7 separate regions of the Homo sapiens genome follow, and regions 1, 2, 4, 5, 6 and 7 are each linked to region 3. The links come from fine-mapping of genetic effects on gene expression. A gene starts in region 3. Each other region holds a variant in brackets. All regions are shown on one strand. Distances are between the middles of the regions.

Region 1 (4,208 bases), 120 kb before region 3:
GGCCCTGAAGCTTTCACACTCACAAACCGGTGTCGGGATGGGTTGTCATGGAGATCAGGTGGCGGGACACCAGGGCTCCCCCAAGGACTCCGGGCCTCCTCTAACGAGCAGGTCACATGGGGATCTGGGGGAGGCATAGGCACGAACTGCGTATTAAATACACCTGACTCACTGTGTCTGTGAGTGCGTGGGCATGTGTGGGTGTGGGAGAGTGCATGTAGGAGTGAGCATGTGTGTGAGCGTACATATAAGTGTGTCTATGTGTGTGTGTGCATATGAGTGTGTCTGTGAGTGTGTATCAGTGTGCATATATGTGTGGGCATTGTATGCATGCATGTGCATGAATGTATATGTGTGAGTGTATCTGTGTGTGAGCACGTGGATGCATGAGTATGTGGGGGCATGTGTATCTGTGTGTGCATATGTGTAAGGATGTTAGTTTGCATGCATATGTGTCCAGATCCCACATGGGATGAAAATTCAATGGCTCCGAAGATCTGCTGGACACATTTCAGATCCTAACAGAGCTCTTAAGCTCCAAGGGGTCATTGAATGGACAATGAGTGTTTGAGTCCAGGTGGCACGGACTCTAGGAAGGCAGCTCCTAGAGCTTCATAAATAACCCCTCACCCCCTTTCTCTCCCTCACAGTCACCCACCCCTACCCACGTCCCTTCCTCTCCCCATCTCTGTTTGCCTTGCAAGCCTCTCCCATTCCCGGTCTCATTTCTTGCATGTTCATCACTTCATCCTGCAGTTCAATTCCCCTCCAGCCCTCAGCATGGACTGTGGGATGAGAGAGCCACAGCCTTATCCCTGACGTAACCAAAACTCTTGGCACCAGCTTAGACCTGTTTCTCAGTCTTATAAACGGTCTCAAATCAGGGAAATGTAAGGTTCTGAGGAAAATGATCACTACTAGGTGATTCCCCTTTGTGTTACCGTAAGGCGGTGAGACAGAGATTCTCTAACGTTTTTAGTGCAACCCACCTAAAAACACATTGCAAACTGCCACCCACCACACACAAGCACATCCATTTATACAGATACGCAGCACGTTTACCCAAACGACACTCACCCTCGCTGCACACAACGCGCTCTGATGCCTCCTGACCTAGTCTATTCTGGTTCTATTGCAGATTTTCAATGCCGGGCTTGACACTCTAAATTGATTTCAAGACCCACTAATGCATCACAGCCTGTGATTTGATAAACCACGCTAAGACACATCCTGTTGTGAGGTGTTCGATCTAGAGGCCGTTTATCCTGCAGTGAGCGGGGGAGGGGGGGCAGGATTCACCCTGAGGCGCGCCTCCTCCTTCTCAGTCGGGCAGGGAGGAGGGGGCTCTGTGCCATGGGACCCACAGAGGTCCTGGTCTCAGGGTTCATGCCCTGTAGCTGCTGTGTGTCCAGCAGCTGGCAGGGCAGGAAGGTTGGGGGTGGGGGTGTCACTCCCACAGGCACACAGTAACCCGCAGAACCCTGGCCTAAAGCTGCTTAGCTCTGTGGCCTCTTGAGCCCACCTGGGAGCAGGCCCTGGAGGACAGCTGTTGGGGGCAGGGACTCCCAATGCACAGTACAGGCCATGAGCTGGGCAAGCTGCTCCTTCCCATAACGTCAGACCCTTCTTCTGACCCACCTAGGACCAGTTCCTGGGAGTTTGCAGGCAATCCTGGGCCCAGAGAAGCAGGCAGATGCGGCTGTTGATAGCACTACTGTGGGTTGTGAATATCATCCTGTGGTTATTACTTTACTTTCATTACCCGCCAGTACACTCGATCCTGCACGTGTCCCCTCACTTCACGCTCACGGGGTTTGCATGATGGGACGAGCGCTCCCAGTAGGTGATGAGGGTGATAAATGGCACCTGACATTCCTGGAGCACCTGTTGGCGCCCAGGGCGGGGCTTAGTGCTCCATTTGAGTCTGGAGTCTTTACTCTGCCATAGCAGCTGTGTGACCCCCGGTAAGTGGTTTAACCTTTCTGTGCCTCTTCTTTCTCAACTCTAAAGGTGGATAATAAAGTCCCTGCCCTCAGGCAATCAAAGATGTGTTAGAAGGGCTTGGCACATGGCAGGCAGACAGTATACATGGTTGGGATTAACCCCACTATACAGATGAGGAAACT[G/A]AGGCTCAGAGGCACTGGCCTGGCAGGCAGTGGGACCTGCACCCAGGCTCGTCTGACACTGAGCTCTTTGGCCTCCCTCCTTTACTGCTGCCTTCAGAAGAGACAGAGGAGAGGGCCACCCCCTCACACGCACACAGGGGCTGACCATCCAAGGTCGCCAATCACCTGGCTGCGAGCAGCCCTGCTCCCACGGGGACACTGACCGCTCCGAGTGCCCGGCATTCAGGCCTCGAGCCACCCACTCTGCACTGCACGGGGCCTCCTTGGAACGCGTCCCTCCCCAGAGGCTGTTTCTCTGTGGGATGGCGCTGCTCTGTGGGGAGGACCCCACCTCCCTCCTTCATGACGACCTGCCCTCACCTGGCTCGTCTCTTGGCAGACGCTGTCCCACACGTCTCTGTCATTTCCATGCCACCATGGTGACAGTCTTCCTGGCCACGGGTGTGACAGGGCCTTTTAGTTTCTGACTGACACAGTCACAGCCCGATTTCACCTGATTCCACTTACAAAGGCAGGTTTCCCTTCCCAGCCTCACATGGGGGTGGTCTCCGTGGAGTTCAAGAGGCTGTGGGCTGGGAGGAGGGGCAGCAAAGAACCCCAGCACACCCCAAGCAGGAGGGGGCAGCGTCCATCCGGCCATCTGGAGACAGCCAAGACCCTTGGCCACTGCAGATCCCCCCACTGAGCCTGGGCCTCCACCCCCACTTCACACTGGAACAGATGCTGGAGGGGCAAACCCCAAATACCCTCCCTAACCAGAAACCAAAATACTGAACTCCACCAGATCCCAGCCCAGCCTGGCCAGATAGTCTGACTTTCCAACGAAGTCGAAAATACAGATTTTTAGAATTAAAATGTAAATGCTGGCAACTAATTCAAATTCAATTGTGTGGTGGGTTTTTTTTGTTTTTTGTTTTTTGTTTTTGCATGGAGGGCTTTCTGGTGAAAACCAGACCCCACCTGGGAGCAGGCCCCGGGGGGACGGCTGTGGGAAAAGGGGACCCCTTCCCCACAAGTGCAAAGAACAGGCCACGAGCTGGCACAGATGCCTCTTCCCGAGCCCACCTGGGAGTGACAACCGGAAAACGTGCTAGACAAATTCTAAAAGAGCTGTAACACCTTACATTATTTTAAAAGTCCCCAGGTTGAGTTAATCCCAGACCCTTTACAGCTTTTTCCTTCTGATTGGTGAGGCCTCAGCTCAAATGTCACCTCCTCAGAGAGGCCCTCCCCCATGGCCCTATTTAAGTAGCTCCCACCAGAGTCTCAGTCAGCGACACGCACCCTTCATTTCCTTCTTGGCGCTGACCCCTACCTGCAAGTGCCTCGTCATTTGCGGTTGGCATCTGCACTGTCCGTCTCCACCAGCACTTAGGCTCCGTGAGGACAGACGCACGTCGCCTTGTGCCCTGGTGAATCCCAAATCCCTGCCCTGAGCGCAGTGCCTGGCACAGAATAGACACAGGCAATGAGTGCTGCTGAAAGTTCCCCATGGAGCCAGTGGTGATCTGTCCAGGCTCTACAGCCCTCCCGCTAAACGTGTTCAGAGACGGGGACGCTGGGGCCATCCTCCTTGCTCCACTCCTGGTGAAGAGCCCTCAGACCCATAAGATGGGCTTGTCCATATCACCTTCTCAGGTGAGCCTCATACATAAGCAGGTTCAGTGGGTTAACCAAGCCTACATCTTTAACCCACGTGATAACCACAGTACCAGGTTTCTGCCATCAAATCTTTTCTATCCTCAGTCCTGCCTTGGGAATTCAGACTCACCCAGAATTCAGAGTTTCACAGACTCAGAAGAGAATGTGATGCTAGATTGTTCTGAAATGTTTGGTTTTAAAGCAAGATCAAATGATTACATTTGTGATCTGAAATCATTTGATTGTATCAAGCCATATCCCCTTCCAAATTATTTTCTTTAAATTCTCCCCAGAACGGGGAGCAGTATTAATTGTTTCCAATGAAAAGACTGCCCCTTTCATCAAAGCCATGAGCTTTATCTGCTGTTTTTGAATATAACACTGGCTTAGTGAAAGTTGATTGTAAATAGCAGGACTTCTTTCTGTATTTTATCCTTCCAA
Region 2 (4,208 bases), 100 kb after region 3:
CGCACTGGCCATGGTTAGAAGGGTTCCCCTTACAGCCTCTCCCTCAGTGCTCACAACCTTCCTGGGAACTGGCACTGTCTGTATTCTCCTTGGGTAGGAAATGAGGGAACTGATGCCTTGGGAGGGGACTAACTGGCCAAAGACAGAACTGGGGCTCGAACCCCAGCAGCTGGTATAGTCAACCACTGCCATGATATCATCATAGATACCTGCTTGGGGTCCCTCCATCCCTCACATCACAGGTGCTCAGACAGAACTTTGCCCAACACACTCCTGCTGCACGATTAAGCAGCATGCCAGGTGCAGTGGCTCATGCTTGTAATGCCAAAACTTTGGGAGGCCAAGGTGGGTGGATCACCTGAGGTCAGGAGTTCAAGACCAGCCTGGCCAACATGGCAAAACCCCATCTCTACTAAAACTACAAGAATTAGCCAGGTGTGTTGACACAAGCCCGTAGTCCCAGCTACTAAAGAGGCTGAGGCAGGAGAATCACTTGAACCCAGGAGGCAAAGGCTGCAGTGAGCTGAGATCCCACCACTGCACTCCAGCCTGGACCACAGCAAGACTCCATCTCAAAACAAAGAGGCCAGGTGCAGTGGCTCATGCCTGTAATCCCAACACTTTGGGAGGCCAAGGTGGGCAGATGACGAGGTCAGGAGATCGAGACCATCCTGGCTAACATGGTGAAACCCCATTTCTACTAAAAATACAAAAAAATTAGCCAGGTGTGGTGGCACGCGCCTGTAGTCCCAGCTACTTGGGAGGCTGAGGCGGGAGAATCACTCATACTGGGAGGTGGAGGTTGCAGTGAGCTGAGATTGCGCCCCTGCACTCCAGCCTGAGCGACAGAGCGAGACTGTCTCAAAAAATAAAAAAGAATGTGGCATGTCCCAAATGTGCACATTCAGGTGCCTTCCTCACAATTCTGGCCTTACACATAAAACTATGACTTATTTCATTTTTAAATCCATTTCTATTATTTCAAACTAAAATCTATTGCAAAAGGATATTCCGTGGTCCTACCTTAACCACAATAACTGCCACCTGCCATTCACCAAAGGTAACTGCCATCTACCAATAATAGGTACAAGGCACACAAAGCAATGCTATGGAATTTGAGTTGGGTACTGGTTCCCGATGAAGGCTCTGAACTTGACTTTCTTCCCTTTTTTCAAAAGGAAGACGAGCAAAGTCTAGAGAGGTGTTAAAGAAACACTAGCACCAAACAGACTTTGCCCTGAGAGAGCCGACAAGGGACTGGCTGTCTCACTTTGTCACTCAAGGTCACTGAATGCTGTGCCTCTTAGGAGCTTCCCAAGTGCACACTTCACACGTGGAGAAACGCTGAAACAGGGTTTGGATAAGCCCCTGACATGCCAATGTCCCCTTTCCCACCAGGAGATCACACCTGGCCCTGGGCTGCAGACACAGCACAGGGTGGCTGCTCATCCGGGCGGGTCTGGCGGGGGCCAGGCAGGGTCCAGGCTGTCCCTGGGTTTGACCGATGTGTATGTCCTTGCCCACCAGCACGCCGAGCTACAACTACGCGCCCAACCCGGACAAACACTGGATCATGCGCTACACGGGGCCCATGAAGCCCATCCACATGGAATTCACCAACATGCTCCAGCGGAAGCGCTTGCAGACCCTCATGTCGGTGGACGACTCCATGGAGACGGTAGGCGCCCGCTGCATGCCTCTTGGTGGGCGTGGCTCC[G/A]AACCCCCAGCCAGGCCAGGGCCGAGACCTCCTGGCCCTTCAGGGTTTTCCTGGAGGAATAGAAATCAAAGGCAGAATGAAGAGGCCCCATGTGCTAGACCTGGGGAACAGCTTGGAGCAATCCAGACAAAAGCCTCTTCCTTCATGAAACATTTTCTAGATCTGTGTTGCCCAATACGGTAACCATATATGCTAGTTATATTTTTTCCTGCTATTTACATTTTTGAACACATTTATTGGGATGTAATTCACATACCATACAATTCCCCCAATTAAAGTGTGCAATTCTGTGGTTTTAATATGCCCAGAGTTGTATAACCATCACCACATCCATGTTAGGACATTTTTCTTACCCCAAAGAGAAACCTCACAGCCCTTAGATGGCCCACTAAATCTCCCTCACCCCCAGCCCCAGACAACTGGTGATCTCTTTCTGTCTCTATAGATTTGGTGTTCTGCACACTTCCTATAAATGGAATCGTACACGCTGTGGCCTTCTGTGCCCAGCGCCTTTCTTTCACTTAGCGCCACGTGTTCAAGCTTCACCCCTGGTGTCGCATGAATCAGTCCCCCTCATTCCCTGTTATTGCTGAATAATATCGCATTGTATGGGTATTGTCACATTTTATTTAGCCATGGCTATTTAAACTGAATGCAGTAACATTATAAAGTCAGTTCTTCTGTCACACAAGCCTCATTTCACATGCTCAGTAGGTTCGTGTGGCTGGAGCCAATATGTGTCCATATCGGACAGTGCAGACATTAACACGGCCACCAATGCAGAAAGTTCTGCCACACGGCGCCCTTCCAGATCGCAAGATCCTGCCATAGGCTGCAGCCCAAGTTTCACTCATTCATTCATTCACCTGACAGCATTATTGAGTGCCAGTGTACGTGGGATACAGCAGGCAGGGAACAAAATGACAAAAGTGTCTGCCCTAATGGAGGCAGCATGCCAAGGCAGGGACACAGATGATCCACAGATAAGTAAAAGAGATGGATGCCAAGAAGGGCCATGAAGAACCGTGGAGGGGAGGGCGGGCCAGGGGTGACAAGAGGCAGGAAGGTGCAGTGACAAAGGGGACAGCCCCTGGGAAAGTTGAGCAAAGACCTGAAGCAGGGGAGGGACGGGGCCTGAGATCTCAAGCGCCTGTCACCCCGGGTCGGAGACGGGCCAGGCACCCAGTCCCCACTGTCCCTTGCCTCCTCGCCCGTGTTGCAGATTTACAACATGCTGGTTGAGACGGGCGAGCTGGACAACACGTACATCGTATACACCGCCGACCACGGTTACCACATCGGCCAGTTTGGCCTGGTGAAAGGGAAATCCATGCCATATGAGTTTGACATCAGGGTCCCGTTCTACGTGAGGGGCCCCAACGTGGAAGCCGGCTGTCTGTAAGTGTGTCATCCCCCAGGGACCCAGGGAGGCCCCTGGGCCCAGCTCAGGGCTTCAACCATGCAGCCCAAACCCAAGCCCACCCTGGGTGGCACACAGTTTTCGCAGATGTACCCCAGGGCCAGCGGAAAGCAATTATGTCATGCATGTTATATCCCTCTGCTGGGGAAGGAGAGGCCGGGAGCTGTTAGCACCTGTGGAAACAGGTGTGGTGGGGCCGTATGCCAGGAAATCCAGGGAGCTGGGCTGTATACGTGTGTGCGCGCACATGCATGTCACCAGCGGGTGGGAATGGTGCTTGGATTTCTGTTCTGGGCTGGGCAGTCTTTGAGCCTGGAGGTTGTCAGGGAGGAACCCCGGACCACAGCACAGGCAGCTGGTTGTCAGCTGGGATCAGCTGAGCCAACTCTGGGCAGCAGCACAAAGGGAAATGCTCTTCCCTCCCATCCTTCCTGGAGGACCACGTGGGCCGCAGCCCTCAGCCAGCCATTCTCCTCGGGCTAACCTTTGAGTTGACATGTTCTGGCAGCGAACATGCTGCGTCTGGGGCAGGGGAGCGGACAGGCCACTGTTCCCGGCAGCAGCTTCCTTGGATCGGCTGGGATATTATGGAGGCTGGCTCAAATGAGGTTTTTGAAAAGCAGATGTGTTGCTATTAAGACTGTCATTTGGTCTGCCTTCTGCTCATGCCCAGATGTGGGAACACACACCCAGCACTCACACAGGGCTGGCTGCGGAATTCCTCCTGAAAAGGCGTTGACAGTGCAGTGTGGAATTCCAGACTGACATGTTCCCACTGCCTTGGACATTTTGCGAGAATTCCAGGAGGCAGGCTGCATGAGTTCAAGGCCAGAGAAAGTGATGACTGACTGTTGACCTTATCAGATCACGCCCGTCTTTGGCTCTTAGCGTCCCCATTGGACTAAGAGCTGTAATAACGACAGTCCACACGTATGGAGTGTCTACTCTTCAGGGCCTGGTCTAAGAACTACATAATAATTCATTGCAAGCCGGGCCCTGTGGCTCATGCCTGTAATCCCAGCACTTTGGGAGGCCCAGGTGGGCAGATCATTTGAGGTCAGGAGTTCAAGA
Region 3 (4,208 bases):
AGTGATCCTCCCACATGAGCCTCCCGAGTAGCTGGGACCACAGGCACATGCCACTATGCCCAGCCTAATTTTTGTATTTCTTGTAAAGATGGAGTTTCACCATGTTGCCCATGCTGGTCTGGAACTCCTGAACTCAAGTGATCCGCCCACCTCGGCCTTCCATACTGCTGGGATTACAGGCGTGAGCCACTGTGCCCGGCCCTCACCTGTTTCTTTTTACTTTCTAATGCCACTACTAGAAAATTCTAAATGATATATATGTCCTTCTGCAGAGATGAGGCGGAAGGAGAGGGGTCTCCATTATTTTTCGGTCTATGATGGTGAAGCCTGACATTCTGTCCCAGGGCAAAGAAGGTGGGAGCTGTTCAGCCTTATCAGTGATGCCAAAGGTAGGGCCAGCACCTGACTTGGAAAAGCAAGTGCAAGGTTTTTCTGATTTATTTAGGCTCTAACTTGATTGGCGTGGCTAACAGAGGTTATGGGGAGGAGCCTAGAGCTCCAAACCCAGTCAGGAGATCCGATTTGAATTTCAGATTTAAAAATGAATGATTTTTTAGTACTAACTTCCTCCCCGTGGATGTCTATATTTATTTGTTAAGTCTGACAACTCTACCATGGAGGATCATATCAGAGAAAGGAGATGCTAGGTTGAAAAGTAAAAACATCCTAGGATTTAAGAGCATGAGCCGGGAGCTAAGGCTTCTTGGCTTCACAGGATCCACCACTTATAACTGTGTGATCTTCGGACAGTTACTAAACCTCTCTTGGTTTCCATGGTAAAACGGGCATAGTAACTTACTGTGTGAGATTGTCACAAGATTTAATAAGTTACTGCTGTTTACAAGTGCTTTCCCACAGCGGCGTCTGTTTCCCCTTAGCTAGCAACTCGGCTGTGTTTTCTGCAGCTGCTGGTGAGTTCTCTGCCCGCTCTTTGCCCACCCGCGTCAGGCCGGTCCCCCTCCGGCCTCTTCTGTGGCGCGAGGGACAGCGGAAACCACGGTAGACAGCACCCCCTTGAGTCCAATTCCTCCCCTTTCGGAGGAAGCCGGTTTCTCCTTTCTATGCTACTCCCGGGCCATTTCTGGACAACAGCTGCTATTTTCACTTGAGCCGAAGTTAATTTCTCGGGGAGTTCTCGGGCGCGCACAGGCAGCTCGGTTTGCCCTGCGATTGAGCTGCGGGTCGCGGCCGGCGCCGGCCTCTCCAATGGCAAATGTGTGTGGCTGGAGGCGAGCGCGAGGCTTTCGGCAAAGGCAGTCGAGTGTTTGCAGACCGGGGCGAGTCCTGTGAAAGCAGATAAAAGAAAACATTTATTAACGTGTCATTACGAGGGGAGCGCCCGGCCGGGGCTGTCGCACTCCCCGCGGAACATTTGGCTCCCTCCAGCTCCGAGAGAGGAGAAGAAGAAAGCGGAAAAGAGGCAGATTCACGTCGTTTCCAGCCAAGTGGACCTGATCGATGGCCCTCCTGAATTTATCACGATATTTGATTTATTAGCGATGCCCCCTGGTTTGTGTGTTACGCACACACACGTGCACACAAGGCTCTGGCTCGCTTCCCTCCCTCGTTTCCAGCTCCTGGGCGAATCCCACATCTGTTTCAACTCTCCGCCGAGGGCGAGCAGGAGCGAGAGTGTGTCGAGTGAGTGTGCGTCTGTGTGTCCCGGCGAGGGTGCGCGCTCGGCGCCGGGAGCGCGGCCAGCCGAGTCCGGAGGCATCGGGAGGTCGAGAGCCGCCGGGACCCCAGCTCTGCGTTCACTGCCCCGTCCGGAGCTGGACTTCGGGGCCGGGGCCGGGGCCGTGCGCCGGGGACAGGCAGGGCCGGGTCGCGGGCCGCGCGTCCCCCAGGCCGGAGGTAAAAGCGCTAGCGCGCGGAGGGCTCGAGGAGGGCACCGCGGCTGGGCCCCCCGCGCCCCGGGCCCCAGCCGTCCGCGGCTCCCGGCCCGACGCTCCCCGCCCCGGAGCGCGCCCGCCTCCCCTGCGTGGAGGCCGGCGGGCAGGCGAGCGGGGGGCGGTAGCGCCGTGCCAAGGGGCTGGCTGGGGCAGCGTGGCCGGCCGGGCTGGGGCGATTTAAGAGCGGTCCGGGCGGGGTGCGGAGCCGGACTTTGGCTGGGGCGGCGCGCGGGGAGGGGGCCGGGGGCGGTGGCGGCGGCGTTGGGGGGCGGGGAGGAGGCAGGAGGAGGAGCAGCAGCGCTCGCCGGGGGATGCAGCAGCGGCAGCGGCGGCGGCGGCGGCGGCAGCGGCAGCGGCGGCGCGGAGTCCCCTGCGCCCAGCGGCCCGGCCGGGCTGCGGCAGAGGCGGCGGCGGCGCCCCGCTCCGGGTGAGGTTGCCGGGGCCGTGCGCGCTGGTGAGTGGGGCGTGGGGGGCAGGTGGGTGGCTGGGGGACGCGGGGCTCGGGCGGGGGCTCGCGGCGGCCGGAGCCTTCCCCGGCGTGAGCCCGGCCGCGAGCGCCGCCCAGGTGAGCCGGGGCTGGTCCGGACCGCCCGGCTCCAGCCCCAGCGCTGCTTGCGGAGGTGGGTCCGGGCGGGCGGGAGGGAGGCTCCGGCGCCGGCCGTCCGCAGAGGGATGACCTGTTTGACCCCGCTGGCTGGCGGGCGGGCGAGGACTTCCCGCCGCGCCCCTGACCCGCGGACACGGCACACCGAGCACAGGCGGCCCCGGGTAGGGGAGCGCGCCTGGGCCGGCCATCCGCAGGGGCATGGCCTTGTTGACCCTTAGGGTTTAGACCCAAGGGACCGGTAGATGCCAGCCCACGTGGGGCTTGTCCGGGCAGGACTCGGGGAAGCAGTGGGCCGGATCTTCAGAGTGGTTGGAAACTCGCAGACACCGAAAGGACAAACAGGATCGAAAAGGCAGACTTCCTCCCAGGCCAGGGCAGAACGAGTTTCCATCGCCTGGCGGAGGGATGCTCCCCTCCCCGGCTCCTCGGGGTTTCAGAAGTCTAGCGGTGAATTCTAGGAGTGCACTTTTCCAAACATTCCTTATAGTAGTTCGTTCATTCGTTCTACAAGCATTTCTGGAGCACCCCCTCGTGCCGGGCACCGCGTTCTGTTCCAGGGAAACGCGGCTGAACAGGATCTGGCTCCTGCGCGCCAGAAGCTGCCGGTTCACTGGGAGGGCAGCAGGGTAGAGAGATGCCGTCTCGGGGTGGAAGATGGAAAGGGAAGCCTGCAATCCTAGTTTGCACACTGGCCTCGGTCCGCAACTCCCCCACCTGCACGCAGTAGGCCCAGCACACAGTAGGAAGAGCAAGCCAGACCTGCCTGTGACGACCCTCTCCTCCTCCTCCTCCCCCTTGAAAGCTTTGATTCATTCCCTGCCCCCCTTTCTGGAAAGTCTTCCTGCAGCTTGTTTTAATCACTTTTTGAGTTAAAAGTCAATATTTAATTAACCAAGTAATTACATTCAGCTTACGTTTCAATCTGGGTATTTGCTCATCTGTGCGTGTTGGGACACCCGCCCTCTCGCCCCTCCATCTGTCCCCTGCCTGTTTCCCACCGGGTCCACCCCCACTTTTGGGGCAGAGAAGGGGAGGCTGCGCTGGAGCAGGTTCTCAGGGGGAGACAGGGAGCAGGAGAGACGGGCTTTCTCTGGAGGACACCCCCGGATCTGCGCGCTCTCCAAATTTCAGCTTGTAGTGAATAGTGAAGGTGATTTCTTGACAGCCTCTGCCTCCCATTACAGAACCACCAGAGGGTTCTAATTAAATTAGAGCCAATCGTTAAGTATAGGAACGGGGTAGGGAGGACAGAACGAAGGGGGCCCCTTCCCTGTAAGAGATGTTCTCCCCAGCTTCGTCTCTCCCACATCATAGAGAAGAGAAAACTCATCCAGACAGCCTGTCGGATGTGTAATTTAGCGTTCTAATAAGCAGCTTGAAAGGCGAAGGTGGTGGGCTTGGCAGATGGCATGTTGGACCTTTGTACATGAAGGCCTCTTCCTTCCCCAGCTAAATTTATATACATAAAGGCCGTGATGTTGGCATCACTGCTGCAGCTGAGGGTCAATGTGGGTTTGGGGTTTGGGCTTTGTGTGTACTTCTTGGGTTTTTTATTTGAATTTATGGCTTTTTCTGAAACCCTAATAACATGTTAAATTTTCAAACTTGAGAGTAGAGTGATGAGTTGACTGTAAAAGTCTGGTCTTGGAGGAGGACAGCATAGCAGTGTGTGTGCATGCACGTGCATGTCCCCCAGTTCAGCTGCTGTC
Region 4 (4,208 bases), 290 kb before region 3:
CATACTTTAAGTTATATTACGGTTTTCTCTTAAAATATCCAGTATTTACAATATGCTGAAAATTTTACCCATTTATTTATTTATTTTACACAAGTAAATATCTTAAAAATATAAAATATATATGTAATTTATAAATATATAATTACATCCAAATATAAATTTAAACTTATAAAAAATTTAGCTGGTAGCTTAGGAATGCAGGAATATAGACATGATTTTTCAAGTTGAAAGAGATGCTAGATGTGTCTGCAGAAGTCAACAGGGTCAGATCTGTTTTTTGAAGGGCCTTGTTTGCCCATTACATGCTGGGAAAACAAGGAATGAAATAAGGTAACATTCACAGAGGATGTCAAAGGATGTCTACTTCAAGTGCCCAATGACAAGGTAATAATGTGCTGTCGGAGAAGGAAAAGATTGCTGTGGACGAAGGTGATCACAATGGGAGGCAGAGGGCCACTGAGGTTAACCCAGGACTTGGAGGAGTGTTGAATCGATCTAGTCTTGGAGAAAAAGTTGCCAGGGAAGTGGAGAAAAATAGAAGTGACTTAAGGATCCTGGAGTCCCTTCATTGGCAAGCAGATCAGCTGGTTGACACTCAGTTATTCTCAATTGTGATAACAGTAGTAATATTACTATTCGATATTTATTGAACACTGTTTTTAGGCATTGGCCTGAGACATCTTGATATACAGATATAGGCTCTGAGATTCTAGCACCCATCCTTGGCCACTACTCCACGCTACTTCTCTTGTGTTTCCTGGGCTGTTGTTCATGCAGTCAGTCTTTCTTTTCTTTCTTTCTTTCTTTCTTTCTTTCTTTCTTTCTTTCTTTCTTTCTTTCTTTCTTTCTTTCTTCTTTCGTTCTTTCTTTCTTTTCTTTCTTTCTTTTCTTTCTCTCTCTCTCTCTCTCTTTCTTTCTTTCTCTCTCTCTCTTTCTTTTTCTTTCTTCTCTCTCTCTCTCTCTTTCTTGATGGAGTCTCACTCTATCACCCAGGCTGGAGTGCACTGGTGCATCTTGGCTCACTGCAACCTCTGCCTCCCGAGTTCAAGCAGTTCTCCTGTCTCAGCCTCCAGAGTAGCTGGGATTACAGGTGCGCACCACCACACCCGGCTAATTTTTGTATTTTTAGTAGAGACAGGGTTTCACCATGTTGGCCAGGCTGGTCTCAAACTCCTGGCCTCAAGTGATCTGCCTGCCTCAGCCTCTCAAAGTGCTGTGATTCTAGGCATGAGCCACCCTGCCCGGCCCCTTTTTTATTTCTTTTAGCAAATAATTGTTGCGTGTTGACATGGGCCAGGCAGTTGGATATATTTATTCATCTTAACTGTTGGTAAGTTCTCATCTGCACTGATTTCCCTGCAAAAGCCTCGTTCTTGGCATGGTTTGATTGGGAAGGAGTGGCAACTCCCTTCTCCCAGCCTTGGAAGGGAGCCATGGTCTCTCTGCTCCCAGGTCCAACCCATCCTGGCTAGTTCTTTGAGTGTCCACTGCAGAGGAGACAAAACTCCACTTTCAACCTCTTAGGGTTCCAGCTGGGCTCTAGAATGAAATCGACCTAAAATAGATTAAGAGGAGAAAAGCATACAAATTTATTTAGTACAAGTTTTATGTGGCATGGGAGCCATCTTAAGGAAATGAAGACCCAAAGAAGCAGAGTCAGTCCCTCAGATAGTGAAATTGGACAGAGAACAGTAAGTTGTGAAAAAGCAGCTCACTCATGTGGGGAGGCTGAAAA[G/T]ATAAGAGTTGTTTTAACAAGGTCTGTACAGAATTATCTCGGCTAGGACTCCCCATCAAAGAATGTTTCTTTTCTCCTGGCACAAAGAGGGCATCTTTCCCATGGGAATTTTTATCTCCCATCTTCAGGAAGAAAATGTGAGATCAGAATGCTCTTCTTGCATCTGCTGTTTTTCAAGCACCTTTAGTTCACAGTAATCCTCAAGTTGAAGCAGCGTATTTGGGGTGGGTGAGAGAGTTCTCACCCTTCACCACCTTTCTCAAAACCCTGAAACCTCTTCCAGTCTGCACCACACCCTCCTGCTCAAAGTTTATGAAGTTTTCCCCAGGACACCTAATCATATTGGACACAGGAACTACCTATTACACTTCTGAATCTCCCCAAGATTTCTAGCTCAGAGACGCCTTCTGAGATGAGATCTGAGATTTTGTTCAGTTATGAGTTCCCCCCGAAATGGACAGTACCTTAAACAAGATAAAGTGTCCTTCTGTCTTATGTAAAGGAGGACAGCCTAAGGCTAATACAGCGGCCCCCATGCCATCGAGGAGCAAGGCTCCTTCTAGCTTGTTACTCTGCCATGATCAGCAAAGGGTTTCTCACTCATAGCTCAAGGTGACGGCTCCAGATCAGACGCCTGAGTCTGCATTCCAGCTGGCAGACGGACAGAGGGAATGTTCTCACTCCTTAAGATACCTCTCAGAATCTGGACACAACAAATAGGTTTATATTCCCCCAACTAGAACTTCTTAGCCACATCTACCAGCAAGCCTGGATGGAAAATGGAGTTTTGATTCTATATGGCCATATGGCAAATAAAATATCTAATAAAAAAGAAGGAAAACAGATGGCGACGAGGAGCCACCGCAGTCTGCCATAGCATCTCAACACATCCTCTCCACCTTGACTTGACCCATCTCTCCAGCCCAGCCCCATCCTCTGGTTCTATTTCCCCCCCGAGGCTTGGAGATCAGGGCACAGAGCCTCCCTGTCTGTTTGCAGCCCTCCTCCCCATCCCCCAGGAAAATCCTAGCTTAGGAGTTACTAATACCAATACTGAGTATTTCCCAGGCCCTTGTGCTTCTCTGACTTGTAACATTTAGAAATTGTAAGAACATGTTCACAGATGGGCTTTTCCATTAATTTATAATCCAATTTCCATCTTTTGAAGCAAAAATAAAGGTTTTCTTCTCATTTAGTTTGTCAGCTGTCACCAGGAGGTGGGCAGGAAGGGCCCTTACATGTCAGATGCTTGGGTGGTGGCTACACAGCACTCAACAGCTGTTGGAGCATGAAAAGGATGAGCTCGTGACGGTGCAAGGTCTTAACCAGAACATCTGCCAGGATGCTTGCAGAAAAGGAATTTAGTCAATGTCGGTGTTGGGGATCCTCTGGAAGGAACAGTAAATCAGGCTTTTTGGTGTCTCAACAGCCAGGAATAATGCTGTGTGTGTCATCCTATAAAGTACTGACATTTCCACTAAAGACACAGGAATTATGAATTGGAGCAGAAACCCTGAGACATTCCAAATTTAAAAATAATAATAATTTTTAAAAGTAAGCAACTTAGGTGGTGATAATCTGAATTAGCTCCAGTTTTGCTCTTGGACCCCAAAGTGGAAGCATTGATGAGCTCAATGTACTAATAATCTTAAATATTTAGTTGAAGTACCGGCCAGACGCGGTGGCTCACGCCTGTAATCCCAGCGCTTTGGGAGGCCGAGGCAGGGAGATCATCTGAGGTGGGGAGTTTGAGACCAGCCTGGCCAACATGGTGAAACCCTGTCTTTACTAAAAATACAAAATTAGCCAAGTGTGGTGGTGTGTGCCTGTAATCCCAGCTACTTAGGAGGCTGAGTCAGGAGAATTGCTTGAACTCGGGAGGTAGAGGTTGCAGTGAGCCAAGATGATGCCGCTGCCCTCCAGCCTGGGCATCAGAGTGAGACTCCATCTAAAAAAAAAACAACAGTATTTAGTTGAAGTAATAGTATAAACACCCACACTGCACTCAATTGTTGGACCACGGGACATTTATTCTAATCACTTGGTTAGAAAGAAATTTAGACTTTAGAAAGGCCCCACCGGACTATTTATAAGCTAGGAACCAAGAAATAAACAATTATGAACTAGGGGTCAGTTTATTCCTCCAAGTTACCATATACCTTATTTACTCTGAGTTTATCTACATTGTATTCTTCCAAGGAAAACTTCTAATAAAGATTCCTCAGAGCATTTTATTCCTTCTTTTTTCTTTTGTTTTGTGTGGTAAATAAACTATTGATTTTGTTTTCATGGTAATTTAAGGGATAATTCAGCTCCATTTGATAACCACCACCTTAATGTATTCAAAGTAAACAAATCGTAGGGTTTCAATTAGTTATTTTTGCCATCAAAATCGACCACATCATGACAGGCACTGTGGAGATCGCTGTGTGGGCTGTTTGGGCCCTAAGTTATATGTGACATTAATGATCTG
Region 5 (4,208 bases), 20 kb after region 3:
ACACAAGCCAGCATTTATTGGGCACTTGCTGCATACAGATCTGTTGAAAGTCTCCGTGCATGTTAAACCATCCACTCTGTAGGCAAGTGCTTGTAGGTGTCCTCACTTTCCAGATGAAGTCACTGAGAAGACAAGAGGTTCAGACACTTGCCCAACCTCTAGTAAGTGACGGAGCTGAGATCCAAACCCAGGCAGGCTAGCTCTAGATCCTACCCTCCTCCTACTCAGCGTGTTCCCTGTGGCATTTTCCCCCAAGTAAGTATCAGGCTGTTTGCTTACCTCTGTCCGCTGTTTGTCAGCTCTCTGAGAATCGAGAGTTTTGTCTGTTCTTTTTTTTTTTTTCTACTGATCATGAAACAGTACAAAGCAAGTGGCAGATGCTCAGGTATTTGAGGGTGTGAATTATATGGCCTGTCAAACATCTACCCACTTGACATACAAAACATTTTGGTGCTCAGCTTCCTAAGACTTGAATACATTGTTTCTAAATTTCCTTTGTGCTCTAACTTTAATCCATGGCCACTCTGTTCTCACAGCTTGCCGGTGGTTTGCCATTATTTCCAGTCCTCTTTTCTGATCATTCTCACATGTAGCTGGAATCTTTCAACTCCAGCTTTTCCTATGTTGACTTAGAGTATCACTTCCAGGAGGGCAGGGAGCTTTCTTTTCACTGCTTTATCCACAGTGCCAAGAACTGTGCCTGGCACACACGAGCCTTCAGGAATGTCTTGTTACATCAATAGTTAGGCAGGTAACTGGGTTCCTAAGCCCTGCATTTTTGCCCTACAATCTTTATGCCCTAATTTCCTTTCCAGATCCTGAGCCTTTGTCTTGAAACCTGATCTTTCCCTCCTCCCTCTGAATGACCCTTCTATTGTCTCCTGCCCTGTTCTTGAGAGCCGGCTTGGTTCTCTGCCTCCATTTGGAATTCCAAGAACAGGCAAGGAGAGCCACAAGATGGCCTGGGCTAGGTAGGGGAGACAGGGAGAAGCTGTGGCCCATAGGTTACAGGAGCTTCTGTCCTTTCTTTGACGGCCCCAAAGAGGAGGAGAGAAGGCTGGAGAAAGCCTGTAGCCAGGAAGAAAGGGAGACACAGGGGAGTGTAAAGTTTAACAGATGTGCGTGTGTCATCCCCTGTCTAGACAGCTTCTGGGCTTGTGAGGTTTGGGACCACACTTTCCCATCCCTCCAGGGGCCTCTCTCTGTTTCCTCTGCCTGCTCTTTGCCCAAACTGTTTCTCCTGCCTGAAGCATCCTGTCCTCCACCCTCCTCTTCACTGGCCATCCAAATCCTTTGGATTCTTCAGAACTTTGCTCCTGTTAGGCTGCTCAGTTTATGCTAAGTACTCCTCCAGGAAGCCCTCCCTGACTGCTCCCAGGCCAGCAGTTTCCCCTTTCCTCTTGCTGTTTATACAACACACTTAACCTCAGTCCCTTGTATCACTTGTTGCTTTCCAAGTCAGCATAAGTGTCAAAAGAGTAGGCTCTGGGGTCAGAATGTCTGTGTGCAAATAGCCATGCTGGCTTGCTTGTTTTGTCTGTCACTTGGAGGTGGCACATCCAAGTGAACCTCCCAGGGGACAGGGAAGAGTGGATTACTGTTGTAATCGGGCAGGATTCTCCTATCACTGAACACTGCCTCACATATAGCAGGCCCTTAATAAATATTTGTAAAGTAAATGAAGGAAGAGAGAAATGATCAGGCTCCCTGGACCACCTGAGGAGGCCCTCAGGTCTGTTGCTGGGCTCTGGCCCCAGCCCGTGGGACATATCTGCACACCCACAATTTCCTTTCTTCCCTCCTCTCATGAGTGTTTCCCGTCTGACCAATGCCGCCTTCTGCCTCTGGCCCCTTCTTCCTCTCCCACCACCTCAACTGCCTAATTATTACCAAACTTCTCT[C/T]TCCTGTTTTTTTTTTTTTGTTTTGTTTTGTTTTTTTTTAAGGCAGTGTCGCTCTGTCACCCAGGCTGGAGTACAGTGGCTCGATCTCGGCTCACTGCAGGCTCCACCTCTGAGTTCACGCTATTCTCCTGCCTCAGCCTCCCAAGTAGCTGGGACTACAGGCGCCCGCCACCACGCCCAGCTAATTTTTTTGTATTTTTTTTAGTAGAGACGGGGTTTCACCGTGTTACCCAGGATGGTCTCGATCTCCTGACCTCGTGATCCGCCCGCCTTGGCCTCCCAAAGTGCTGGGATTACAGACGTGAGCTGCCGCGCCCAGCCCTCTCTCCTCCTCTTGTTGGATTTGGAGGTGGAGAGAAGATGGGAAGGGAGGACCAAAGGGACAGTATTCAGCACCCATGCTGCACGACACTGGGCAGGTTCTGGAACCTGTCCGTGCCTTATCTTCCTTGTCTGTAAATGGAGCATCCCAACTCACAAGGTGGTTGTAAGGGTGGCGTGAGGTCACACACTAAAAGTGCTTAGAATTGTGCAGGGCCCCTGATGTTAGCTATCATTCATTATTGTTCTTCTAGGGTGTTTCCTGTGTTGGTCTGGGTGCTCCCTGTTGCAAATGACAGCCCTAATTCGGACTCTCTTAAGCAGCAAAGGGCACTTTTTTGAGTCTGTACCTGGCTACAAGATGCAACTTGGTCCACCCCATTGTCACCAGCATCCTCTCTCTCGGGCTCCATCCAATGGGCGGCCACCATCAGCACCATATTCATGCCTCCTGGCACCCAGCACAGTCTCCTCCAGCCTCCAGGACTCCCTCTCGCTTATTGGCCAGACTTGGGTCACATGTCTGCCCCAGGACCAATCGCTGAAGCTAGAGCTGGAATTGCTGATTGGCTCCACCTGGCTCACATGCGCTGCCCTGCAGTCAAACCATATATAAGGGGGGGTGGGAAATAAGAGCACTTGTGGCCTCAAAGCACTAACAGGGGCTGTTACCAGGAGACAGGAGATAATTCTTTGTTAAGCCAGTAAATATTTTGAATGCCTGCTATGCCGCAAGCATTGTTTTAATTGTTGAGGATATAGATCTGAACAAAAATGACAAAAACCTGTACCTTCAGGGGGCTGATATTCTGCTGGAGGACATCCGCAAAGAAATAAAGGAGCTAGCTGTGAGAGGTGGTAAGTGCTACTGGGGAGGGCAGAGATTTCGGTTTTAACCTGCCAAGGTGAAATTTGAGCAAAGACCTGAGGAGGGGGAAGAAGGGATGGTGAAGATAACCTGAATGAAGGCTCCAGGCAGAGGGAGCAGCAAGTTCAAGGGCCCTGGGGTGGGCTGTGCTAGCATGTGCAAGGAACAGTACAGAGACCGTGTGGCTGGAACCAGGTGTGCAAGGGAGAGAGGGGAAGGCAATAAGGTCGGAGAGGTGATGGAGCAGGTTGGGTGGGTTCTTGTAGCCCCTTTGGAGGGTTTTTGCGTTTTACTCTGCGTGGGATGGAAGTTATTGAAGGCCGTTCAGTGGAGGAAGGCAGGCCCTTGCTTTTGTTTTAACAGGATCTGTCTGGCTGCTTGATGGAAGGGACGAGGTAGAAGCAGGGAAACCAGTTAGGAGGCTGTTGGAATCCAGGCAGGATTCTCCTATCACTGAACACTGTGCCTCATAGGAGGTCCTTCATACGTATTTGTAAAGTGAAAGAAGGAAGAGAGAGAAATGATCAGGTTCTCTGGACCACCTGGGGAGGCCGCTAGGTCTGTTGCGGGGCTCTGGCCCCAGCCCGTGGGACGTATCTGCACACCCACAGTTTGCTTTCTTCCCGCCTTTCATGGACATTTACCATCTGACCAGTGCCTCCTTCTGCCTCTGGCCCCTTCTTCCTCTCCCACCACCTCAGCTGCCTGATTGTTCCCAAACTTCTCTCTCCTCCTCTTGTTGGATTTGGAGATCCTCAGAGGAAAACAGCCCATCTGGGTCTTTCTAAACAGGTCTGGATGAGGTCCCAGGTGTTTGTTCACCGCTGTGGTTTGTGGCATTGGGAAGGTGAGGGCATCAGTCACTCAGACCCGTTCCTCTTGGCAGATCGGCAGAGAAATTGAGAACTAAAAATGATGTTTCTAAATGCTCAGGACGTTAGCTGTTTCCAGAGATGTCTCCTGGGCTGGCGAGCCTTTGCCAAGGTCCTGGAGAAGACTCAGGATGGAGAGGAGGAGCCAGAGAGACCTGGAAAGGAACTGGTGGGAAGGAGAGGTGTTGTCCACAGCAGGGATGGAGTGGCAGGCGGCTGGTGCTGCGTGAGTTCACTGGGTGCTCT
Region 6 (4,208 bases), 45 kb after region 3:
GATGGACTTACTGGATGGTGCATCCAAAAATATATATATATAACTCACACCTTAATTCTCTAACTCGACGTAGTTAACTTGGATTGAGATTAAAGGGTTTTTTCTTAAATCACGTTAAATACAAATATCAAACAAATCATAGCACAGTGGTACACAGGCCCCCAAAAAGCCACCGTGAATGGGGAGGCAGTTCAGGAGTGTCATGGGAGAAACTGCATTCTAGCAGTTGGGTGGTTTGGGCCCCCAAGTTTAAATCCCAACAGATGGGCCTGGGGGTGAGGCCTCTCCAGCCCATCAGAGTCACAGAGGTGTCAGAGTGACCTCACCCTCAACCCAGTATGGTGGGAAGGTTTGGTCATGGAAAGAAACCGGGTCTGTTTTTGTCTGCATGTCCCCAGGTTTATGTTGGACGAAAGAAGTTGAGGTTGGCTGGCCCAGCTGCATTGAAAAGCTTGAAAACTGGCCTTTTCATTTCTGTGTGGCCGTGTCGTTCAGGTCCTTCCCTCCCGTCGGAGCTGTCCTTCTGCATTAGGGCTGGGGCTGGGCAAGGGGATGAGATCATATGTTTTTGTGTTACAGAGGTAGGTTTACACAGCCTCGTCGCTATGGCAGTTTTAATAAAGCAGGTTACTGTCCCCAAGGGGAGGCTTAGCACATAGCACTGCCCATGCACAGATGCTGCTGTCATTCCGGGGCACTGTTGTCCTTTACTCGTGGATTGACACAGCGCTCCTCCGCCAGCTGATTTGGGAAGGGTGAGTGCTGGCCAAGAGCACCTCACAGCTCGCTTCCTCTGGAATGAGGAGGAAGGAGATCTAAGCATTTCGAGACCCTGGATCTGAGCCCATTAAAAACAAGAAATGGTTCTGGAGGCTGTTCACTGTTTGCCAAGGCAGCACTGGGGGCTGCGGAGTGCAGGTGATTTCATCAGGTGACGGCCTGCCCTGCGTTCCCTTCCAGGAGAAGGGTCTGACCAGTTAGGTGGGTGGCCAGCTTTTGTCCTTTCTGCAGGGTCTGGAGACCGAGAGAGGCTGAGCTCTCACTACCAGCTGCTTCGTCCTTTCTCCTTCGTGTTTGGGACTAGGGAGCAAAGGATCGATTCCACTTGGGGTGCCCTGGACTCGTGCATTTAAGAAATATTTATGAGCACCCACTGCGTGCCAGGCACTGTTCTAGGCTGAGCTGTGGAGCCATCAAAAGTCACAGGGAACAGCAAACGGGATCAGTAGATAAAAACATAAAAGTATATCATGTGTTAGATGATGAGTGCAGGGTTGAAAATGTCAGGCAAGGAAGGGAGTAGAAAATATTGGGGGCCAGGGAAGACTCCACGGAGAAGGGAACTTTTGAGTAAAGACAAGAAGGGGGTGAGGGCACCGCTGCGGGGCTCCGGGGGAGAGGTCTTCCAGGCAGAAGGAACAGCAGGGCACAGGTTCTGGGATGGGAGCACGCCTGGTCAGTCTGTGGACAGAGCAGGGGACCCTGTGGCTGCAGAGAGTGGGCGGAGAGGGGGATGGGGTTAGGGAGGGGAGGGGATTGGGTCCCACCACACTCTGTGGATGGCCAGAAAGATTTGGGCTCCTCTGAGTGAGCAGGAGCCCCGGAGAGTGTCAGGAGAGGAGACTCTGGCTACACCGTGGGGAATAAGTGACTGGAGTCCAATCAGGAAGCAACTGGCCTGATTTCAGGGAGAGAGGATGATCGCCTGACCCACGGGGGAGGTGGCAAGGGTACGATCGTGGGTGTTTACGTTGAAGAGAGGGCAACAGGCTTTGCTGATGGATTGGATGTGGGAACTGAAAGATGGGAGGAACCGTAGCCAAGATGATTGCCCAAGTACCCGGAGGAAAGGGGAGTGGCTTCGGGAGGAGCAGGAGGGACGGTGACATCAGGGCTTGGCTGTGGGTGTGGCACCTGAGGTCTAATCGACAGCCGAATGACATCAATGGATGTCAGGGTTGTACCAAGCCACACATCAAGGGATGTCAGGTCCGGGTT[T/G]TACCAAGCCAATGATTGCCAAATTCTAATCATTCCCTCACAATTTTCATCATATATCTGTGTGCCACTTGTACGATTATTTACTTTTTAAAAATCGGCTGCAATTGTTTGTTGTTGTTGTTGTTTTAAGAGGATTTCCACCACCCTAAAGGAAAAGCTAAGGTTACTTGCCCTAAGTAGAAGGAAACCAAGCCACGCAATTAATCTAAGGCAATGCCACCCCCTGCCTGGAGCTCCCAGTGGCCTTTCACACCACCAGCATCCCTGGTGTTTGGTGATGTGACCCTGGGCCACCCCCACCCCTGGTGTGCCTGATGAAGTCACCACTAGAGGACCCCCTTCTGGGTCACCAAGGGACCATTCTGAGCTTAACTGAAGCCAAGAGTGGACCAAGAGCATGGGGACCTCTATGCACTTCCTCAGGACACTGTTACCACCTCCCGTGTGACTGTGACATTTTGTGAACGTGAAACTCAGCACCCCGCCTCTGCTAGGCTTGAGTCTTCACTGCCTTCCCAGCTGTGCAGCCTTAGCCAGTCATTCAGCTCCCCAGGTTCAGTTCCCTCTTCTGTCAAATGGGCCATTGGGAGAATTAAGTGATGAATGTCTTCAGCCCAGCCATAAGCATTCAGCCAGTGATAGTCGCCACTATTAATTATAATGATTATTACTGGCATAGAAGACTGCCCTCTTCCCCAGGAATAAGTTGGAGTGCTCTCAGTTCCTTAGCTATATCAGAAGGTTGCAACACCCAAGCCTTCAGGGGTCGGGCAGGTAATGAGAGTGGGTGCAGGTGGTGTAAGACTGTAGGGAGCACGGGGGAGTGTGGCAAACTGGAGAGCACATATCCTGTGTGATGCTATTTAATGTCACATTTTTAAAACCCACTCTACAAGACACCAACACACAGGTCTGTGGACACCAACTGGTTTGGATTCCTGAGATATGAAAACCCGAGTGTAAGATAGTATTTTATATGTTAATTTAGCTGGTCTCTGTTGAGCACATTATGTGCCAGGCACTGTGCTAGGCAGTGAACAAAGTAGGCTGAGTCTCTGCCCTTGTGGTGAAGGCAGCAACATACAAATAAGTGAAATCAAAATGACTTATGTTTGAGGACAGTAACTGCTGTGGAGAGACACGGAGCGGGGAAGCAGAGTGGAGAGTGCTATGGGTTGCGGGAGGTGGTTTCAATACAGGCCAGGGAAGGCCTCTCCAAGAAGGTGGTGTCTGATCAATAACTTGAAGGAGACAGAGGTAGCCCTGTGATTGGAGGAGTGAGAGCATCCCAGGCTGGGGGTACGGCTGAGGCAGGGGCCAGGAGGTGGGAGGGCGGCCAATGTGCAATACTGGGACCTCAGGGGCACGACCTTGGTGCCTTGATTGGTGGTAAAAATTTAAAGTAGAAGCAGCTGATTGCTGAGCAGAGGGCCTTCCCCAGATCCCAGGAGGCTGCAGTGGGTCTGATGCTTGTTTTCAGGTTTCTAGGGGGTTGCTAGGTGATTGGGATCACAGCCTTCACATGCCTGGTAGACCCTGTTTTGGTTTCCCACTGCTGTCCTAACAGATCACAAACTGGGTGGCTTAAAACAACAGAAATTTACTCTCTCAACAGTTCTGGAGGCCGGAAGTCCAAAATCAAGGTGTTAGCATGGCTGTGCTTCCTCAGAAGGCTCTAGGGGAGAGCCCTTCCTTGCCTCTTCCAGCCCTGGGGACCCTAGGAGTTCCTTGTTCCTTGGCTTGTATGTGCATCCCTCCAGTCTCTGCTTCCCTTTGAATGTGGCCTTCCCCTCTGTGCCTGTGCGTCTTCTCCACTTTGTGTCCTATGTGGACACTTGTCACTGGATTTAGGGCCCACCTGGGGAATCCAGAACAAATCTCATTTCAGTAGCCTCAATTTAATTACATCTGCAAAGACACCCTGTATTGGTCTGTCTTCATGCTGCTGATAAAGATATACCCGAGACTGGGTAATTTAGAAAGAAAAAGAGGTTTAATGGACTTAGTTCCATGTGGCTGGGGAGGCCTCAGGATCATGGCAGAAGGTGAAAGGCACATCTTACATGGCGGTAGGCAAGAGAGAATGAGAACCAAGCAAGAGGGAAAACCTTTATAAAACCATCAAATCTCGTGAGACTTATTCACTACCAAGAGAACAGTATGGGGGAAACAACCCCCATGATTCAACTGTCTCCCATCAGATCCCTCTC
Region 7 (4,208 bases), 110 kb after region 3:
CTGAGGGTCAGAAGCCTGGGCCTAGCCCTGCAGGGTCGTCTGCTTAGGCTGAAATCAAGGTGCCGGCCAGGGCTGTGGTCTCATCCAGAGGCTTGACTGGGGAGCATCTGCGTCCCTGCTCATGGGGCAGGTCAAGTGCAAGCAGAGGACTTGAACCCATGCAGTCTGCCTCCCAGACTGCTCACAGTCTAGCTGCTGATTTAGAGTGGCTTGCTTCTTCAAAGCCAGCAAGGGGAGAAAGAAACCAGAGCCAGACTGCTAGCAGGATAGTAGTTGACTATCTCATAACACAACCACGGGAGTGACAGCCCATCACCTTCACAACCCACTGGTTGGCAGCAGGTGCAGGTTGGTCCACACCCAAGGTGAGGGGGTCACATTAAGGTGTGATCACCAGGGACAGGGATTCTGGGGACCACTGAGGCCTGTCACGGGCCTCCTTGGTCATAGAGCAAAGAACTAAAGGGGTGAGGGACGGTGGCCCCTGATCTCCAGGGAAAGGACATTCCAGGCAGAGAGGATGGTAAAGAAGAAGGCCCTGAGGCTGCACTGTGCCTGGGCTGTCAAGGAACAGCGAGGAGCCAGTGTCTGCCCCAGAGGTTCAGGGGAAGGGTTCAGGAAGGGCCAGGATTTGGGCTGGCTGTAAAGGGGGGGTCGCCTTCACTCAGGAAGTGGGGACAGGAAGGGCAGGAGGGGGACAGGGTGAGGCTGTCAGCTCACGGCATGAGCTGAGACACAGAAACTAAGGGGGGGCGAGCACAGAGTGGGGGTTCAGCTGAATCTGGGCCGCAGAGGGGAGCTGCTGAGGTTGAGGTGCCAGACTGCAGCTTCCATACCTGCAGATGTCAGCCTCCCACAAACTGCTGCCCACCTACCGCTCCCCACCCCCCACGCGAGGCTGAGGCACCACCACCTGAGTGACTGAGTCCCCGATCTCCTGCCTCCCCCAGGAATCCCCACATCGTCCTCAACATTGACCTGGCCCCCACCATCCTGGACATTGCAGGCCTGGACATACCTGCGGATATGGACGGGAAATCCATCCTCAAGCTGCTGGACACGGAGCGGCCGGTGAATCGGTGAGGACGGAGCAGGGCAGGTGTTGAGGGGGCCGGGACATTGACCTGCGGGAACTCAGAGCAAAACCCTGTGGGTCTAGAACGTGGGGTCTCCAAGGGTCGGGAGCTGGGGTTCTCAGGTCCCGCCATGCCAACCACTTACCTGCTGTGGGAGAGAAGCATGGTCCCCTCTCCGAGATTCTGTCTTCCCATCTGGAATGTGGCCAAGGTGACCAGTTGGGGACCTTCTCTGAGCTAAAATTACCCAAAGCTTGAAATGATAGCAGCAGTGATGGTAGGAGATGGTGCTAACTGCACGGCGCTTGTGTGTGAGGCCCTATTCTAAGTACTGTGCAGGGAAATCTAGGAATTTGATCCTCACAGTAACCCAGCGAGGTGGACATTATCATCATCCCCATTTTACCAGTTTGGAATCTGAATCCCAAAGCGATTGAGTGACGTGTCGGAGGTATCCCAGCAAGTCTGGATGTAGCTCTGGGAATTCAGATGCTGACTCACCACGCCCCATAACTTTAATGCTGGAGGGTGTGATGGGAACATATTCCTAGGTGTCCAGAGAGGCAGAATAGGAACCGTGAGGGTGAGCAAGTC[A/G]GACAGGTGGGAGGTGGGCTGAGTCAGGGCGGGGAGGCTGGTGTGGCCGCAGCGACATCTGGTGGCCAGCGCTCTTAACAGCCACCAGGTTCCTGGCCTCCAGGTGCTACTTCAACTCCTGGCTTGCACCTCTGGCAGCGGAGCCCTTCCCCTGTGGCCTCCCAGAGGCTCCAGCCAGGCGAGCACTGTGTGCCCACATCTGGCTGCCCTGTAGGGGGACCGTGTCCATTGAGGCTCCTCCCCTGACTGTGAGGCCAGGCAAGCTGTAATGGTATAAAATGGACATGTTTGGGGACACTGGCCTGGGAGCCAGGACACCTGGGGGTCAGGGGACAGGGTGGAAGCTTCCCCTCTCAGCTTCAGAGTCCCCATCTAGGAAATGGAAATGACCAGGTGGCACTGGATGAAACATACAAATTACATACATGCAACTGCAAAGCACCAAAGAAGAAAATACTCCCAAAACCCAATGCAATTAACCTGACATCAAGGCAACCACTGCGCCTGACACTGAGCTCAAGACAGAGCTCAAGACGCCAAACCACTGCGCCTGATGCTGAACCACTGCGCCTGACGCTGAACTCGAGATAGAGCTCGTCTAGTGCCGGGGGAGTTGCTGGGCTTCCTGGGAGGGGCTTGAGATGTGTGTGCGCGCACACACACACACACACACACACACACACAGTTACTTGGGTGGGACTTACAGTGATTTTGACCTGGGTCATTTCTACTGTGTGTGTCTCCAGACCCAAGTCTCTGGGGAAGGGGTGGCTCAACTCAGAGGAGGGTGGGCAATGCTCTAGTGCCCAGCTGGGCACACTCACCACAATTGCTGTCCAGGCTGACCGTAAACCAAGGCTGACTCCTGGTGCCGTCCCTGCTCCTGGGGGAACGGGGGGTCGTGGGAAGCCCTCATGTTGCTGAGAAGCAGGAGCCGTGCTTTTTTCCAGGTTTCACTTGAAAAAGAAGATGAGGGTCTGGCGGGACTCCTTCTTGGTGGAGAGAGGGTGAGTGCCGGGTCCTGGGAGGGACACCCCTGCCCACCTCCCTCCCTCTGCCCAGGAAGCTTCTGTAGCCCCACCGCATCATGCTATTCAGGAGCTGCCCATGGCTCTGAAGTTGGTCCAAAGGCCCCTAAACACAAAGCCCATTCACTGCTCCTATAGACACAGAATTGGGGTCTGAGGTCACGTGTACGCTTTTGGCATGCTTTGTCCAGCCTCTACAATGTCTTCAATTTATTTAATTTATTGCCAACTCATGCAATTTGGGAAGTTTCTTATAAAATTCCAATGTCTTAAGTTTCCTAAACATCAGAAGACCCGGGCAGGTGGCCCTGCGCCCTCCACTGTGAGGAAAAGCCGGAGCCGAGGGGGCACCCCTCTAGGTGGGCACACATGCCTCCGGGGCTCCTCCAGAGCTGAGAGGCCGGCCCCGCGGCTCCTGCTCTCTGCCCCATAGCAAGCTGCTACACAAGAGAGACAATGACAAGGTGGACGCCCAGGAGGAGAACTTTCTGCCCAAGTACCAGCGTGTGAAGGACCTGTGTCAGCGTGCTGAGTACCAGACGGCGTGTGAGCAGCTGGGACAGGTAAGAAGGCTCCCTTCCCTCCCAACGGCTCCCCCTCCTGACTGCAGCCGGCCCTGACCTGCGAGGCTCTGAGAGCCGCTGAGCCAGCAGGGCCAGGGCCTCCCAACGGGTAGTCCTTTGCTGCCGTGTGGTGCCCAAGATGCTGTTTGGTGGTGCAGGATGATGCTCACAATAAGTGATTCATTTCTCAGCAGCCTTTGGACCCTGACCGTGTCAGAGGCCAAGTGTCCCGTGGGTGTGTGTATGCCCTTAGCGCCTCTCTAGCCCTTGCCGATCTCTCTTGCACGAAGGCCCCAGCAGGAGTTAAATTATTTTATTTTCACCATATTCACTTTGACAGTATCCTCTTTGTGACTGGTTTTCCTTTTATAGGAGTAATAAGACATGGCTTTTTAAAATAAATATAGGTAAGGTTTTAAAAAGTGAATTGATTGCAAGAGAAATATTAAGGAAATTATGGCCAGGAACAGTCCGTGGCTCATGCCTGAGGTCCCAGCTACTCCAGAGCTGAGGCGGGAGGATGGCTTGAGCCCACGTGTTGGAGGCTGCAGTGAGCTATGATTGCGCCACTGCACTCCAGCTTGGGTGACAGAATAAGACCCTGTCTCTAAAAACATAAGAAAAAAGAAAATTATCTGGGAAGTATCAGAGATAGCCAGAAACTGACATGTTTGGGAAAGCCTGAAGGAGGCTTTTCTGAGGCTGGAAAGCCAGGGCAGGCTTGGAGAGGAGGGTCGGGGGCGGGGCAGGGCAGGGAGGGGAGTGGGATGGAAACTCTGCCTTGGCTGGCCCAAGGGGTGCCGGAGGTGTGTCCCTGCCCTGCCTGTCAAAGGCTGGGACTTTGAGCTGGGGCTGGAGCTGTGTGCCTGTTTCACCTATGAGAAAAAGCAAAACCAGGGCCCTGGTATTGAAGGCCAAGGCCTGAAGTGGATGCGTTTCTGATGGAC

Alleles and levels. Positions count from the first base shown, and alleles are read on the strand shown. Sizes are in standard deviations (SD) of each study's normalised expression. Not every link is listed here.
In carriers of allele T in region 4, the expression in testis of the gene that starts at base 2,208 in region 3 tends to be lower than with G alone (moderate effect, 0.63 SD a copy in GTEx).

Evidence for each region. PIP is the estimated chance that this variant, and not a neighbour inherited with it, causes the effect.
Region 1: its variant is fine-mapped to the expression of SULF2 in whole blood (TOPMed, PIP above 0.99).
Region 2: its variant is fine-mapped to the expression of SULF2 in whole blood (INTERVAL, PIP above 0.99).
Region 4: its variant is fine-mapped to the expression of SULF2 in testis (GTEx, PIP above 0.99).
Region 5: its variant is fine-mapped to the expression of SULF2 in whole blood (TOPMed, PIP above 0.99).
Region 6: its variant is fine-mapped to the expression of SULF2 in whole blood (TOPMed, PIP above 0.99).
Region 7: its variant is fine-mapped to the expression of SULF2 in blood mononuclear cells (TOPMed, PIP above 0.99).

The regions. Positions count from the first base shown.
Region 1 is chr20:47,903,387-47,907,594 of GRCh38, reverse strand. It overlaps the pseudogene RNU7-92P. Among named protein-coding and RNA genes, the nearest start is that of LINC01523, 78 kb to the left of the region's middle. The variant G/A (reference allele first, on the strand shown) is at 2,127.
Region 2 is chr20:47,681,901-47,686,108 of GRCh38, reverse strand. SULF2 (sulfatase 2) reads left to right here. Exons shown (of 21, transcript NM_001387048.1): 6 at 1,528-1,678; 7 at 2,940-3,115. Among named protein-coding and RNA genes, the nearest start is that of SULF2, 100 kb to the left of the region's middle. The variant G/A (reference allele first, on the strand shown) is at 1,718.
Region 3 is chr20:47,783,481-47,787,688 of GRCh38, reverse strand. It overlaps SULF2 (sulfatase 2), which reads left to right and starts at 2,208. Exons shown (of 21, transcript NM_001387048.1): 1 at 2,208-2,346. LOC124904920 (a long non-coding RNA gene) reads right to left here and starts at 1,935. Exons shown (of 2, transcript XR_007067618.1): 1 at 1,527-1,935; 2 at 804-1,284. LOC124904921 (a long non-coding RNA gene) reads left to right here. Exons shown (of 3, transcript XR_007067619.1): 3 at 273-349. RefSeq lists an enhancer at 921-1,090.
Region 4 is chr20:48,068,670-48,072,877 of GRCh38, reverse strand. No RefSeq gene overlaps it. Among named protein-coding and RNA genes, the nearest start is that of LINC01522, 81 kb to the right of the region's middle. The variant G/T (reference allele first, on the strand shown) is at 1,736.
Region 5 is chr20:47,763,084-47,767,291 of GRCh38, reverse strand. All of the region lies in intron 1 of SULF2 (sulfatase 2), which reads left to right. Among named protein-coding and RNA genes, the nearest start is that of SULF2, 20 kb to the left of the region's middle. RefSeq lists a silencer at 693-987 and an enhancer at 860-1,632. The variant C/T (reference allele first, on the strand shown) is at 1,902.
Region 6 is chr20:47,738,559-47,742,766 of GRCh38, reverse strand. All of the region lies in intron 2 of SULF2 (sulfatase 2), which reads left to right. Among named protein-coding and RNA genes, the nearest start is that of SULF2, 45 kb to the left of the region's middle. The variant T/G (reference allele first, on the strand shown) is at 1,999.
Region 7 is chr20:47,675,547-47,679,754 of GRCh38, reverse strand. It overlaps SULF2 (sulfatase 2), which reads left to right. Exons shown (of 21, transcript NM_001387048.1): 8 at 951-1,079; 9 at 2,621-2,677; 10 at 3,132-3,261. Among named protein-coding and RNA genes, the nearest start is that of SULF2, 110 kb to the left of the region's middle. RefSeq lists an enhancer at 468-968. The variant A/G (reference allele first, on the strand shown) is at 1,671.